Linked DNA regions of Homo sapiens: all the other regions are linked to region 2. The links come from fine-mapping of genetic effects on gene expression. A gene starts in region 2. Each other region holds a variant in brackets. All regions are shown on one strand. Distances are from middle to middle.

Region 1 (2,764 bases), 39 kb after region 2:
GCACTGCAGCGCAGACCAGGGCGGGTTTGGCCCCTGCTAGCGGTCACTGCGCCCCCACACGTCACCTTCCCAGAATACCCCAGGCCGCGTTGAAATGATGGCGTTATTACCTGCAGGCAGGTGTAATGGTGGCAGGTAGGAGGAAAGCTCCCTCATTTTCACCAGGTGGCAGGCATGGAACATCCCCTGAAACCTTATGCAGTAATCTTGGTTTTTCTTCCCTAGCCTCAAAAAATACTTCGAAATTACTAAATTCTCCTCTTCAGGAGAGTCCAGGAATAGGAGTTTTAAAATAATTAAGACAACATAACATCTACTATAAAACATACATCCATTTAAAAAGTATTTGATCCAGAAGGAACTAAATCGTTGATGGAGAAAAAAATATGACATCATAGATCTCAAAGGAAATGTTCATTTCTTCTATTCCTACTTACCTGGAAATTTATGGCCTTTAAAAGCTGATTCTGAGAGATGAAGCCACCTGGACTTCGTAGGTCAGGTGGGGCCTTGGAGAACTTTTCTGTCTTACAACAGGTTTGTAAAATGCACCAATCAGTGCTCTGTAAAAATGCACCAATCGATGCTCTGTAGCTAGAGGTTTGTAAAATGGACCAATCAGCACCCTGTAAAATGGACCAGTCAGCACTCTGTAAAATGGACCAATCAGCAGGATATGGGTGGGGACAAATAAGGAATAAAAGCTGGCCACTCCACCCCAGCCACCAGTGGCAACCTGCTCAGTCTGCTTCTATGCTGTGGAAATTTTGTTCTTTCGATCTTCACAATAAATCTTGCTGCGGCTCACTCCTTGGGTCTGTGCCACCTTTAAGAGTTGTAACACTCACCACGAAGGTTCAGAAGGCTTGTGGCTTCATTCTTGAAGTCAGTGAGACCACAAACCCACAAACCCACCGGAAGGAACCAACTCCGTACACAATTCTTAATTAAAATTTCAAACACGAGCGTACTACTTCCTCAACAAATGCTGACACCTAATTTAATACTGTTACCATTATATGATCTACCTATAATCCATGTACACATATACTATGAAGCATATGTAGAAACAAACACCAATGTATGTATGTATATGTATTTTTTTCTTCTTTTTTTTTCTTCTAGAGACGATCTGGTTCTATCACATGGGCTGGAGTGCAGTGTTGCAGATCACTGCTCACTGAAAACTTGAGTTTCTGGGCTCAAGCAATCCTCCTGCCTTAGCCTCCTAAGTAACTGGGACTACAGGCTGAGTCACTAAGCTTATGTACCTATCTGATCTCTCTCCATCTCTCACTCTGTCTCTCTTTCTGTCTCTGTCTTTGTCTCTCTCTCCCCCCACTTTCCCCTAAGTTTTTAAATTTTTTCACTTTGAAACATTAACCCACATTGCTCCTTAAAAGAATAAGTCAACCAAGGCTGGGCGCGGTGGCTCACGCCTGTAATCCCAGCACTTTGGGAGGCCGAGGTGGGTGGATCACGAGGTCAGGAGTTCAAGAC[T/C]AGCCCGGCCCACGTAGTGAAACCCCATTATCTACTAAAAATACAAAAGTTAGCCAGGCTTGGTGGCGGGTGCCTGTAATGGGAGGCTGAGGCAGGAGAATCACTTGAATCCGGGAGGCAGAGGTTACAGTGAGCCGAGATTGTGCCATTGCACTCCAGCCTGGGTGGCAGAGTGAGACTCCATCTCAAAAAAAAAAAAAAAAAAAAAGTCAACCTGGCCAAAAAAAAACCACAATGTGTGTATATAATCAGATGTATATCGCTGATTATTCAAGGAATAAAAAACTATAGAACTAGCTGAATATCATTCCTAAATTTGTCACAAGGAGTTTTATAATTTTGGAATTATTCCCTGCCACCCCTTAAAATTTTTATAGTAGCAACATTCTTCTATAATTACATAGATTTTTAAAAGTCAAATTACAAATAAAAAGACGAGGAATTTATAACTTTGGGAACAGTTTGTTATATTGTCAGGCTTATGTTGTAGAATGCAACAAATACAAGTTTATGCTATATTTTTGTAGGATGAAATCAGAACATCAACACTGGGAAAACAAACTGATTGGACAATAACATCAAGGTTGAAGAGAGCTCCACTGGAGAAAAGGGAGCATAATGCATACAGGAGGGATGACAAAGTTTCTCTGCTTAACCAAAATTTACTCAGGCTTCTCCTCCACCCATCTGTGGACCTCATTATAAAATCTAGTTTTAACAAGGAAGTCTGTTTATCAAGAACTCTCTTCTCGGCCGGGCAAGGTGGCTCACCCCCATAATCCCAGCACCTTGGGTGGCCGAAGCGGGCAGATCACGATGTCAGGAGTTTGAGACCAGCCTGACCAACATGGTGAAACCCTATCTCTACTAAAAATACAAAAATTAGCCGGGTATGGTGGTGCACGCCTGTAATCCCAGCTACTCAGGAGGCTGAGGCAGGAGAATCACTTGAACCCAGGAGGCGGAGGTTACAGTGAGCCGAGATCACGCCACTACACTCCAGCCTGGATGACAGAGCGAGACTCTGTCTCAAAAATAAATAAATAAATAAATATAAAAAAGAACCCTCTTCTCCTTGATATCTGATCACCCTTGATATCTGATCAGGTTCATCTTCCACCATCTTCCAAGTGATACATGACCACTCTGGCCCATCTTTAACAAGAATCTTGTTAGGTGTCAGTTTAGCCAGAATCCCCCTTATCCCTGATGTTTCCTTTTAGTAATTTTCCATTCCTTCACCCACTACACCCCAACCCTGCTT
Region 2 (2,764 bases):
AAAGTAACCCCCAGGCATCACCTGGCCTATCAGTCAAAAGATCTGTAAATGCAAGTTCTGCACATCATTCCAGTCTTCTTATGCCATAGCCTCTAAAGCGAGGGTTCCTAAAGGGTACGCAAGGATTCCACGCATTTCTGCAGCCCCTGCGGCAGTGTAGGCATTGCGCAGTTTTAATAAAAAAGCACCACCACCACAGTAGGCAAACCAGATGACCATCGCAGGTCACAGGAAAATTAAAGGCTGCGGACTGTGCTACTGCCCCTTCTGATGCCCCCTCCTCTACACAGCAATCATTCAGCGTCCCTTAGTCACTCCGGACAGCGACAGGCCCCGCGGCCGCCATGCCCACCGCCTCCATGCCATGCCCACCGCCGCCATGCCTACCGCCGCCAAAGTCCACCACCGCCATGCCTACCCGCTGCCAATGCCCACCGCCGCCAATACCCACTGTCGCCGCCTTCCCCCTACCTCCCAGCCACTTCCTACGGACTCTCCCCGCGCCGCGACCACCAACACAACCCCCACCACTGTCACACCGACTCATCCCCCTGGTCCACTGCCATAGCCTCCTCGCCTCGGTCACTGCGACGAATTCCCCCCCCAGTCGCCCCACGTACCCTGCTCCACCACGCAGTGGTCACTATTATACACCTACCTGCGCTCAACACCCCCTAAATACCGATCACTTCACGTACCTTCGCCCCGCCACAATCACTCCAATATACCTACCTCCGCCTAAAATCCCTATGCACTGGTCCCCCCACGTACCCTCGCCACACGGAACTGCAATCACCCTGATGTACCCACCTCCACCCATGTCCCTTGCCCACTGCGGTTACCCCGCATGCTCCCAGTCACCACCGCCCTTCCCACCGCAGACACCCGCAATAGGACCTGTCGCGACACCACAGTTGGGGGCGGATGGGGGACGCGCCCCAATGCGAGCGGACAGGATACCATCGGGGCAGAACGGCACAACAGCAAGCCTCTGAACATTCCGGATCTGGTTCTCCAGAACAAAGGACTTTAGGGCCCAAATTCCGTTTATTCAGTACTCCAAGTCCTAAAAACTTGGAATATCTGATGAATAAAAGTGGCCGCTCCCCAGGCTGTCTCTTGAGAGAAGCCACCGGCACAGCTGACCTTGCCCGCTCCATCGCGTCACTGACCGCTCCTCAGACAGATGCGTCAGGCATCTCCGGCGGCCGCTCCACTCTGCGCCAGACTCGCTGCAGCAGCGGCAGGCTTCGCACACATCCCCGCCTGAGCATGCGCGCCAGCCTGCCTCTGCGGCCGCGCAGGCGTGCTTGTTTGCCGCAGTGCAGGGGTCCCAGCTCCCTCCCTCACCGGAATGACCTGGGGGGAGGGGGCTACTGGACCCCTAGGGCCCCACAGCACTGTTGCAATGAGAGGGGGCCTCTAGAAACCATAAGCAACCTGGGATCAATGGACATGTCTACCTGTTTTTTAAAATGTGTAAAATACTAAAGAAATAATTCTTGGTTCTACAATAAATTTTTGCACACACCACTGGCCAAACAATCCTAATTTACACTCACCCTCAGGTCTTCCTATGTGCGGTACAAAAAAGCTGGTTTGGAAAAGTTAAATGCGCCATAACCACAATCAATGCAAATACGCCAGACTTGAAATCCTTCCAAAAGAAAATATCCCTAACTCTAAAAGCATGCTACATTGTTCAAATTTGGTGCGATTTTTCTACCCTTTTTCTACTTTCTACATTTTGAGGGGGTAAATTGTGAAAATTATCTCCCCCAAAATCACAATATAATTAAACTCTCCTATACGGAATGGATAGATCATTCAACTCAAAAACACTGGCTATTCAATTTTTGTAAAACAAAAATATGAACTTAGACCCCCACCTAAGATCTAAGTAGGAGAGCCTTTCTTTGCCTATTAGAATTGGATACATTAAAATTTTTACCAATAATCAATGATAGCTGGAGTGGGGAGAAACAGGCACTTTTATATAATACTAATGGACAAGTAAACATTATTTACGACATAATATTCTATCTGCAGAAATAACGGAAGCATCAGTAACTCCAAAATTTAGACGCTGATGTAGCTTGGGAAAAGACACTGCAGAAAAGAAGAAAATAATCCTGAAACTGCATCTGCATAGTTTTTACACACATTTGCCCTTTCTCAATTGCCCATTATCGAAGAAGGGAGGGTGATGTGAGTGGAGGTTGACTAAATGGTTAAATCCCCTCCCAAGCCCTGTAAGCTACTGCTCAGTTCCCAATGATCCTACATTAAAACAGGTGCGCAGAGGCTTATCAATGCTGACTTCTATCGTAACAAAATCTCAGAAACTGTGTAATGTTCCTCACAGAGAACAGATAGGCTAACTAAATAAACGTATATATAAATAATAACATGCAATATGGCTGATGGAAAAAATGATGTATTAGGCTGAATCATATAAAATTGTCAATATTGAATTGTTTTGACCTACAAAAACATTGCAATTTCTAATAGTTCATTGATACATATTCACATAAAATAACATGGGAAGTTGACTCTGATCACGGGAGTCAATCGAAAAATAAAATGTAGGCTGGGCACAGTGGCTTACGCCTGTATTCCCAGCACTTTGGGAGGCCGAGGTGGGCAGATCACGAGGTCAGGAGATCGAGACCATCCTGGCCAACATGGTGAAACCCATCTCTACAAAAAACAGAAAAATTAGCTGGGCGTGATGGCACATGCCTGTAATCTTAGCTACTCGGGA
Region 3 (2,764 bases), 85 kb before region 2:
AAAAATAAATATTTAATACACTGAATTTCACTAAAAGATTATTTTCATCCAACAAAAAATGGTGAGAAAAGGAAATATATCAATACTTCCCCCAATTTATTCAGGTTACTACAAAAAAATCCCTTTTTAAAAAAAGGGAAAAGATAATGAGATTCCTTGAACAAAGTAGGGATACTCACATAGCAAAAAAAATTATAAAATATTATAAAAAATATATAAAAAAATTATAAAAAAATTATAGAAAAAAGTTATAAAAATATTCTCCTTTGAGCCTCTAAAATCATGAACTCTCAGATCCTGAAATTCTGACATCACTGGCCACAACACACACAAACAATTTCAAAATCACCACAGCAGCTGCTCACCTCTCTTCCTTGAAATTCTGTGACATCTTCTAGACCTGCAGCAAACTATTAAAAACAAAGTAAATCAGATTAGACAATATACAAAATTCCCTAAAAAATAAGATACAAACATTGTTTCTGTAATAATTACCACAGAGCAATCTTTGCACAAGTCACAGATCTTTGGTCCTTTGTCACCTTTGTCATTTATTCATTTATTTCCTCCTCCAATTCCTCTTTATTTTTGAGATGGAGTCTTGCACTGTCGCCCAGGCTGGAGTGCAGTGGTGCAATCTCGGCTCATTGCAGCCTCCCTGTCTCTGATTCAAGCGATTCTCCTGCCTAAGCCTTCGAGTAGCTGGGACTACAGGCACGTGCCACCACGCCTGGCTAATTTTTGTATTTTTAGTAGAGATGGGGTTTCGTCATGTTGGCCAGGCTGTTCTTGAACTACTGGCCTCAAGTGATCCGCCCACCTCAGCCTCCCAAAGTGCTGGGATTACAGGCATGAGCCACCCCACGCTGCTAAAATTCTTCCTTCTTTAAATAGTAAAAATCGGCCAGGCACAGTGGCTCACGGCTGTGAGCAATTTTCTCTTCGAATCAGATTCTGAAGTTGTATTCCGCCAAATAAAGACTTTTTGAAAACGCCATGTGGTGGGTAAAATTAAATACACATAATAGGGGTGTTGTGAAACCAATATTCTAGAAGAGATAAAAACTTTAGGAATCTACTTCAATAGTACAGTAGATATATATCTCTCTCTCTGTGTGTGTGTGTATATATATATATATATATATATA[TAA/A]AATCTTTGAGATCTATTTCAAAAAGTTACATAGAAATTAAAGATAGAAAGAACAGAAAAAATAAATGAAAAATTTCATAAAATAATTGGAAATCATAGAAAAGAACAAAATGTAATAGGGCACTTCCATTGTAAGACCTAAGAGAAGTAAGATGGAGTAAGCATAGTCCATCTTTACACAATCAAAGAATTAAGAATCTCAGGAGGGATGCACTGATACGGTGGCAGAGAACTTGGAAGGCTAAATGTTTGAAGGTGAATTGGGGAACTCAAAGTGCCATAAAACACCACTGAGTTTCATGTATTTTCCTTTTCTCTAATATCCCAGCCTGAATTCAGTATTGGAGAGTTCCTGAAAAATAAAAACATAAAACTGCTTGTTGAGTACAAAAACCAATACTTTTTTTTTTTTTTTTTTTTTTTTTTGGGTGAAACAGAGTCTCGCTCTGTCACCCAGGCTGGAGTACAGTGGCACAATCTCAGCTCACTGCAAGCTCCGCCTCCTGGGTTCAAGTGATTCTCCTGCCTCAGCCTCCTGAGTAGCTGGGACTACAGGCGCTCATCACCACGCACAGCTAATTTTTTGTATTTTTAGTAAAGATGGGGTTTCATCATGTTAGCCAGGATGGTCTCGATCTCCTGACCCTGTGATCCACCTGCCTCGGCCTCCCAAAGTGCTGGGATTACAGGCATGAGCCACCACGCCCCGCCACCAAGATATAACTTCTATACTTACTATTTCAATGTAACTTTTTTTTTACAATAAGAATAGTTCACATCAATATTCAACAGAATATTCATTTTGCATAGACTATTATCTGCCTTCAAATGTAACAAAAATTATCTTAAACATCACTTACAGACAGGTCCTCAAAATGTCAAATAAACACAGTTACTATATTCTCATGTATAATAGAATTGAAAACATAAACACACAAAAACCTCCACATAAATATTCCTGGCGGGATTAGTCATAATAGCCAAAAACTAGTGAGTGGATGAGCAAAATGTGATATATTTATACAATAGAATATCACTCCTCCATCAAAAAAAATGGAGATCTGATATATGCTGCAACATGGCCAAACCTTGAAAACATTAGGCTAAGTGAAAAAAATTCTGGGTAAAAAGGCTTCCTTCTAATATAAATGCTTCAAATGCAGGTATCTACAAGGCCTGCTGGTATTATAGTACTCATCCATTTATTTCACATTTTCATGTTTCCTGAGCATTTATGTATGCTTGAAGCCATATGCCCAAACCATTTCTTTTTGACATGTTCTTTTGCATTATTTTCATCAACTACTTTCAGACCTGCTGAACAGATACAAGACTATCCATAATTCCTGGATTATTTCCACCTGGATTCCCTATTTGCTAACATCTTACAACATCTGTTTCATTTTTTTTTTGAAACATGTATATTATTTTATCCAAATGCTTGGAAAATTACAGCTATGACATTATCCCTTTATCCTTTAAATTGTTTTAATTTCTTAAAAACAAGAATTTTCTGTTATATAACCTCAGGCAATTATATAACTTAGGCAATTAATACTCACGTAACACTATAATCTACTTGAGGGACTGTCTTCAAATTTTGCCAACCTTCCT

Alleles and levels. Alleles are on the strand shown, and positions count from the first base shown. SD is a standard deviation of normalised expression in the study named. Not every link is listed here.
For the expression in monocytes after LPS of the gene that starts at base 1,222 in region 2, allele TAA in region 3 goes with a higher level than allele A (moderate effect, 0.75 SD a copy in Kim-Hellmuth 2017).

The links. PIP is the estimated chance that this variant, and not a neighbour inherited with it, causes the effect. A credible set is the group of variants that fine-mapping cannot tell apart.
Region 1: its variant is the best candidate, but not a certain one, in a credible set for the expression of SNRPN in monocytes (TOPMed, PIP 0.62).
Region 3: its variant is the best candidate, but not a certain one, in a credible set for the expression of SNRPN in monocytes after LPS (Kim-Hellmuth 2017, PIP 0.53).

Annotation. Positions count from the first base shown.
Region 1 is chr15:24,914,913-24,917,676 of GRCh38, reverse strand. The region is part of intron 3 of SNHG14 (small nucleolar RNA host gene 14); the gene reads right to left. It also overlaps a transcript of SNRPN not described here. Among named protein-coding and RNA genes, the nearest start is that of SNRPN, 39 kb to the left of the region's middle. The variant T/C (reference allele first, on the strand shown) is at 1,501.
Region 2 is chr15:24,953,445-24,956,208 of GRCh38, reverse strand. It overlaps SNRPN (small nuclear ribonucleoprotein polypeptide N), which reads right to left and starts at 1,222. Exons shown (of 10, transcript NM_003097.6): 1 at 1,147-1,222. It overlaps SNURF (SNRPN upstream open reading frame), which reads right to left and starts at 1,222. Exons shown (of 3, transcript NM_001394334.1): 1 at 1,147-1,222. The coding sequence starts at 1,160. The region is part of intron 4 of SNHG14 (small nucleolar RNA host gene 14); the gene reads right to left. RefSeq lists enhancers at 1-241, 242-807.
Region 3 is chr15:25,038,449-25,041,212 of GRCh38, reverse strand. The region is part of intron 23 of SNHG14 (small nucleolar RNA host gene 14); the gene reads right to left. Among named protein-coding and RNA genes, the nearest start is that of SNORD109A, 2.1 kb to the left of the region's middle. The variant TAA/A (reference allele first, on the strand shown) is at 1,149.